Linked DNA regions of Homo sapiens. Changing the gene in region 2 together with the main gene of any one other region gives a genetic interaction. Each region holds a gene or a part of one and is shown on either strand. Other genes may lie near its edges.

Region 1 (3,821 bases), on a different chromosome or scaffold from region 2:
TAATGGTAAATAAAGCTCGCGCTGCTGCCTAAACGCTTTGGAAAACTTCCTCATGGCAATTCAGCACTGTGCTTCACATCAGCCGCAGAAAGGTGTTTTGGGGTTTTTTTTTTTTGTTTTATAACGCCCACTTCCTTTAACAAGTGAAACAAGTAAAAAATAAACAAATGAAAGAAAAGGGGAGACAGGAAGAAGGGGGGAAAGAAGACAAGGAGGGCAGGAAAGAAGAGGAGAGACGCACTCCCATGCTCAGAGCCCCATGGCCACACAGGGTCCCTGCCCAGGTGACGCGGCCGCTCAGGAGCACGGAGGCTTCTCACCAACTGCGTCAGGAAAACACCAGGACCACCTGGGGAAGATAAAACTTTTTTTCTTTAAATAAATCTATAAAGTAAAACACTGTTACAAGGGGAAAAGAAAGCCCCACTTTATGTATTTGGTTGCCCATGGTTTTAGGAGCATCTAATCTAATTTCAACTGAACTCCTAATGAACTAGTCATGCACAGATGAGTCTGCTTCAGCCCCTGTCTCCTCCATTCCAGGGGCTTCTGGAAATGGGCCTCTTCTACATACAGTTTAAAGCAGAGCTGGGTGGACTGTTAGAGGTAGGTTACAGGAGGAATAAAGACCCATCTTCAGAGGAGGTCTCAGCACCACGACATGGGAGCACCTCTCAGGACAAACGATAACTTGAGCGGCATTAACGCTGAAACGAAGCACCCCTTGCAGCGTCTGTCGCTGGTGCCTGCAGATGGCCTGCGCTGCACTTGGGTCATGCCGCACCCAACAGGAGTCAGAAGGTGACTCGCCACTATGGCCGTCTACTCACATGCAACAGTCCATGCAGAGGGCAGCTGGGGGTGTGCATTCGGAGGCTTTGGGATAGAAAGCAGGGGAATAACACTAAGGGCAGGGGACAAGAGTCAGCAGAGAACACGCCAGGGAGCCACAAGGGAAAACTGCTTAAGAAAACACTGAAGACTTAAGAAACTTTAGTGACTTGAAACCACTGGAGTTCACAACACTAAAATACAGGTTTAGGACTGAAGTGTCTTTTTGTGCATGAAGTATTAAGAGTCCCTGAATATAATTTGAATTAAATAAGAAGAGCTCCTATTTGTAGGTTAATACATGTAAATTATTGTATATTTTTGCTATATACGGAGATATACTGGAACTACTGCGGAGTTACATTACATCTTAAGCAGTTTCAAGCAGATAGTATTATCCGAATTTTAGTAATGCATTCAGTGGACTTAGGTTCAGACTACAAGAAAGTGAATAAGGAAGGTTCGCTTTACACCTGGGTCAGAAAGGCTGGATTCCCAAAGCCTCCGAAGCCCCAGCTACCCAACTTGCTCTACGTCATCTAACTATGAACAGTAAGGTAGGCACAGACCAAGCAGTTGGTAATACAGCTTGGCACGCAGACACCGGACGAGAGAGACTGCAGCAAGGGTTTCACGTGATCGTGTGTAATGTTCGTCCACACCTTAGTCTTCGACTTGGGACTGCTTCCATTCTGCCCTTCCTCGGAAGCTTCGTCGCCCCGGCCAGAGTTCAGCCATCTTGTCTTCTCCCGCTGCTGCTTCTGAAAACTGTGTCTGAGTGGGGAGCAAGTGCCCGAATCACCGTCACTAGCAAAGGAGTAACCTGTGACACTAGCAGGAACCTCCACATCGCTGTATTTTTTAGACTTCTCTCTCAGAGCAGGGTATCGATAAGGGTAGCCAGTTCTGTAGCCCTAGGGTCCAAGGAGAGTGAAAGACAGTCAATATTCCAGATCTCAAAACAGGGTTTCACTTTGGAAAATCATGTGGAAACATCCACAAAAGTTGAACACATGCATACCCTATGACTCAGTAATTCCACTCCTAATTTTACACCCCACAGAAGCAAATGTGTTCACCAAAAACCAGGTACTAAAATGTGGACAGCAACCCTACTCCTCGTAAACCACAATTGGAAACAACCCAAAAGTCCATCCATATAGGAGATGGATAGTCTAGTGTCTTCATAAGAAGGCTTATAGTGACACAATGTGCTCTAAACCAACCACGTGGATGACTCTCCTGAAGGCAACGCTGAGTGAAAGAGACCAACCTGCAAAGAACATACACCATGTAATACCATTCATTAAAAGTGCAGAAGATGCAAAACAACCTTTGTTTTGGTTGTCCTGGGAGACAGGACAGTTGTCACCCCTGGGATGGGACAAGTGAACTGAAGGAGGTGCTGGGGGTGTTCTGAGGTGCTGCTACCGTTGCTCTTATTGACTGCTGGTTATACAGGGGGTTCAGTTTTTAAAAATGAACAAACTGAACACTTGCGGTAGGTGCACTCTCCTGCTTACATATTTCAACAAAAAATTAAAGTTGAACACCCAAACAGGGTTTACTTGCTGCCAGCCACTGTGCAGGTTATATTCATCAACATACTTAATAGACTTTTACCTCTTAAGTTACAGTTTAAATACTGTGATAATCTTTAGGTAAGTAAGGTAAGTAAGTATACCTCATGACAACTGGTTCTCAGCAAAATTACTTTACGTCTGAATACAACAACATTCAAATTCACCTCCAGCTCTGCCTCATGACCATGTGCTCTGTGGTAAAAGACAGCCCCACTTACTTCATGCCTCTACTGGACCAACTCATCTGCAGAGTCCTCCCACAGACAGCATCTCTAAGGGCATGGACGGTGTCCTCTGCATCTCTCCTGGCCACACTTGGTAAGTGTGACAGACAGACTTCACAGTGGCCCCAGGCCCCCAGCTCCTGTAATCCCCTCCCACCTTGAGCACAGGTGAGATCTCTGACTTGCTTCTAAGTAGCGGAATTCACAAAAGGTGATGATGGGCTGTATCACAGAAGAGTTTAGCACCTATCTTATAAGAGTCTCTGTCTCTACTGCTGGCTCTGAAGAAGTAAAGCTGCCAAGAATGCTTCAGCCCTAAGAAAAGGAATTCTGTCCCCAGTCTAGAAGAGCCTGGATGTGGATCCTCTGAGTCAAGTCTCCTGATGAGAACCCAGCCCTAGCCAACACCCTGAATGCAGCCTTTATGAGACCCTAGGTTGAGTTCGCTGTGCCTGGACTCCTGCCCCACAGAAGCTAGGAAATAAATGGCTGCTGTTCGAAGCCACCAGGCCTGTAGTGATTTGTTGCCCAGCACAGAGAGGTAATACGGGGGATGCTGAAGAGCTGTCTGCTCAACAACCTAACAGATTCGCACCTGAACCAAGTCACTCACAGCACCTTCACAATACATCACAAGAGAATCAGGACTTGGAGGGACTGCACAGGGTCAGACATACAAGACACTTCAGTGGCCTGTGCCCTGCTGGCTGTGGTACTCTAGAAACAGTCCTCTCAATTCAGAATTCTCTCTCCCCTCTGGGTACTGCTCTTTTTTGGGGGCCATCTTCATTACTAATCACTCTTTCAATATTTTTTTTATTTTTTTAATTTAATTTTTTTTTTTTGAGACAGAGTCTCACTCCATTGCCCAGGCTGGAGTGCAGTGGCGCCATCTTGGCTCACTGCAACCTCCGCCTCCCAGGTTCACACTATTCTCCTGCCTCAGCCTCCTGAATAGCTGGGACCACAGGCACGTGCCACCACACCCGGCTAATTTTTTGCATTTTTAGTAGAGACGGAGTTTCACTGTATTAGCCAGGACGGTCTCAATCTCCTGACCTCATGACCCACCTGCCTCAGCCTCCCAAAGTGCTGGGATTATAGATATGAGCCACCACGCCCGGCCTCCTTTTATTTTTTTGAGATGGAGTCTTGCTCTGTCACCCAGGCTGAAGTGCTGTGG
Region 2 (3,600 bases):
TTCTTTAAATGACGGAGACACGATGATTTACGTAACGCCAAGGCAACATCTGTCTTGTACAACAGGAAGCGCTGCCACACCTCGCAAGAGAAACTGTCACCTTATGGGGAGAACAGTCCCACCTCGCTACAGAACTCTCTTGTTAGAGGGGTTACCAGGAGCATCCAACTTTCTCGACAACGAAAACCTCCTCCCCCAAATGGCGCTAGCCCTGGGGGCAAAGGTGTACCAGAACCCTGCGGGGAACCATCTCCCCACCCGCCAAACCAGAAACGCAGTCGGTGATGTCAGCCCTGCACGCCGAGGAGGAAGGGGCTGTGGAAAACACACCCAGCGAGGCGCACAGTCGCATCTGGCAATCTAGAGGCTGCAGAGAAAGCAGAAACGTGGAGGGCATCTCTCTGCGGACTGGAAGTGGCGCGGGGCGAGGGACCGGGCAGGGCGCGTGCCCGGGGGCAGGCGTGGGGGGGAAGGCGGCCCCCGAGCGGGCGTCTGGACGCCGCCCCTCCTCGGCCAGGAGGGTCACCACCCCCGGCCCCCGCGCACCAGGGCTGAGGCCAAGGCCACCCGCACCTCCCACCCGCTTCTGCTCCCCCAGGCGACGAGCCCGCGGCGCCGCCGCCTCCTCCCGGAGCAGAAACTTTGCGTCTCTAATGGAAACCAAGCCGCGCGCCAGTTCCCTCCTCCCCCGCCGCCCCCCCCCCCCGCCCCAATTAGCGCGAGCCCAGCGCCTCCCGCGGGAAGTGCCTCCTGGTGCACCGAGGCTCACGCCCGCCCGCACTGCTGCACTGGGTGGGGGGCCGCAGGGTGCGAAAGCGGCAGGAACAAGCCACGGCCACACCGCAGGGCCCCGCCCGGGCGCAGGGCGGCCCGGCCGCCGCTTCCGCCCTCTCCGCCCCCAACCCCTCGCCTTCCTGCCCCCAACCCCACCCTTCCCCGGCTCCTTCCTTCCCAGCCCACGCCCGCGCCGCGCCCCCCGGGAAGAAGGAGGGGAGAGCGACCGAGGGAGGGCGCCCAGCAGGGCCGGCCAAAGTGGGGAGGTGGCGGGCGCTGACTGCGCCCCTCAACACCCGGCCGGAACAATGTGCGCCACCGGCCAGCTCCAGCCCATTCATTCTCCACTGCCCGCCCGACCTGCCACCTTCGCGCCGGCGGAGAAGCGGGGTGGGGAGGGGCGGGCCGGGGGGGGGGGTCTAGTGCCCGGCCCCGCCCGGCTCCCAGGCCGAAACGCTGCGCTGCAGGCAGCCCGGGTGCGGCGCTAGTGGATGCAGTGGGTGCGGGGCTGGGCGGGGGGCAGGGGGATTGGATGCAGAAACCCCCGCTGCAGTTGCGGCCGGAGCCCCTGCCCGTGGACGGCCTACGACCAAGTCCAGCTCCAAGGGGAACCAATAAATGAAGCTCCCTGGCAGAGGTCGCCGAGATGCAAATCCAAAATGCAACCTCCTTTAAGCGCAGCTGCTGCGTAACACTCAGAAAAGAAAAACCTCCAAGAACCAAAAACAAACAAAAAACAAACAAAACAACTAGAAATCTGGGAAGAAATCTCGGGCAGCTGCTACGCCGGCATTTGCCACTCCCGACCTACCATGGTGCGAGCGAAGGGAGGAAGAGCAGAGGGAGCGAGGGTGGCTGCACCAGCGCGGGGGCTGCGACGGCGGGGGTACCTCCGATGCCGCTGCTGCTGCTGCTGCTGCTAAGGCGCGCTGTGCGCTATGCCGCCGCCGCCGCCTGCGCCGCCGCCTGACTACGAGTAACGGCACGGCGTCCACGACACTCCCAGCACCACTGCCGGAGCGCGAGTCTGCGCCCCGCGATATATATATGGTGCGCCGTATCCCTCCGCCGCGGCGGAGCCGCCTCGCGCAGAGCGGCGCTGCGGCAGCCGGGCCTTGCCCGCCTGGTCCCGCCCCCGGGTTCGCCAGGCCTCCCGCCGCCCCCTGCGCGCCAGTCGCGGCGGCCCTACGCTGGGTCGGGGAAGCGTTCTAGGCTGGGCGCGCGGTCTCGGGTCAGGTGTGGCGGGGAGTCCTCAGGAGACGCCCACCCTGGGCGGGGGCGAAGACAGAGCGCCTGCTTAGTCCAACCTGGGGGCGGCCCAGAGCTTCGGAAGCCGTTCACTCCGCTACCTACCCCAGCCTCACCCCACCTGGGTGACCCTCCCACCTCAACATCTCCAACCGCTCCACTAGGGCTGCCGGCTCCCGCGTGCCCCTCGTCCTTGGGTCTGCAGCGGCCACTTCCAGTTTGGGGTGCTGCAGGAGGTCCTGAGAGTAGGGGGTCCGCGGGGAGGTGGAGGCAGATTGGCCACACTCCTTCAGCTGCCGAGGAGAGGGGTCTGCAGAGGACGAGGTAGTTGTCCTCCTGGAAGAAATTGGTCCTCTTCGGATTTTGGAGCAGTATCCGAGTCAAATTATTTATGCTCAGTTGCTAAATCTGTGTCATGCTGCGATGTTTAATCAGTCTTTAATGTTTTTACGTTTCCACTGAATATTTTTTAGGATGCCTGAATATTTCTCCCCTACTATTTTGTTCTTTTTCCTGGCGCCCGTCTTACTAAAATTAGTGTACCTGTGCAGCTTCTACAGACCTTAAACCCAGGCTTTAAATTTTTCGTAATTTTCCTGATCCTGAGAAGGGTCAGAGTCTTTATTCATAAATCCATAGAAACAAGGGAAAAAATAGATGCTTCAAATCCTCTGCATTACAAGTGGAACACACAGCCAATTGCCTCTCTTATGGAGCTAGATTGTATTTTAAACTACAGTTTTGATTATATTCCTTTTAAAAGACTATTTAAATCTTTAAATATACTAGTGTTTTCCATTTTTTATTATATTCCTTTTAAAATAATATTTAAATCTTTAAGTTTACTAGTGTTTTCCATTTTTCTGTAAAGTAGAGAAAGAACAATTTCAGCCAGTAATGTGAACCCCAGGACTTGTAAAAATCTAGACAAAATGCTGCAGTTTCTTTTCTTGCCAAGGCAGAACACAGAATTTGATCTTCTGTTTTACAGGGCCCGGGCAACAGTTGGAGGTTATCATTTGCTTACTGTTTCACAGAATATGGCAAAGTGTGTGATTAACATGCTGTGCTAGAAAGGGCTTTGCTTGCTTGTGTTTGTTTCTGCTTTCAACAAAGTCTGCAGGAATATGTTTTTTAAAAAAGGAAAAATGTACAGGCACATTGCAAATGCCACAGGACTTCTTGGGATAACCTTAGACAAGACGTCAGCATCTGTGGAGCTGTTCCTACTGATGTTCCTTCTGGAATGCCGCAGAAAGAGTGAACCTGCTGTTTAATTTAAAGAGAGGCTGCAGCAGCAAGCCAGGGGATGCTGCCTTCCCTCTGCAGATTAGAAAGACACTATTCACTTCACAAACCTGATCCTAATCCCTGCAAAAAAATAATAATAATACTCCTGGGCTCATAGGGGAAAACCTGAGTAGGAATAAAGCGTGCATACTAATGCGAGAGTTGGAGATAAGGAAATAGAAGAAAAGGGACTAATACAAATTAATTTTAAAGAATATGCAATAATCCAGTCAGTTACAAGCCTAAATGGCCAAACTCCTTATTAAAACTGCATCTTGGCCGGGCGCG

The links. A genetic interaction does not mean that the proteins touch.
Region 1: of CALM1 (region 2) and ADD1, changing one suppresses a phenotype caused by changing the other (phenotypic suppression), as found in Homo sapiens cells (one study listed by BioGRID).

The regions. Positions count from the first base shown.
Region 1 is NC_000004.12:2,902,688-2,906,508, reverse strand, and holds part of ADD1 (alpha-adducin), read right to left. Parts: intron 1,746-3,821; coding exon 1,401-1,745; intron 1-1,400. UniProt on the Homo sapiens protein: Membrane-cytoskeleton-associated protein that promotes the assembly of the spectrin-actin network. Binds to calmodulin.
Region 2 is NC_000014.9:90,395,219-90,398,818, reverse strand, and holds the start of CALM1 (calmodulin-1), read right to left. Parts: upstream 1,791-3,600; 5' UTR 1,589-1,790; coding exon 1,586-1,588; intron 653-1,585; exon of another isoform or gene 1-652. UniProt on the Homo sapiens protein: Calmodulin acts as part of a calcium signal transduction pathway by mediating the control of a large number of enzymes, ion channels, aquaporins and other proteins through calcium-binding. Calcium-binding is required for the activation of calmodulin.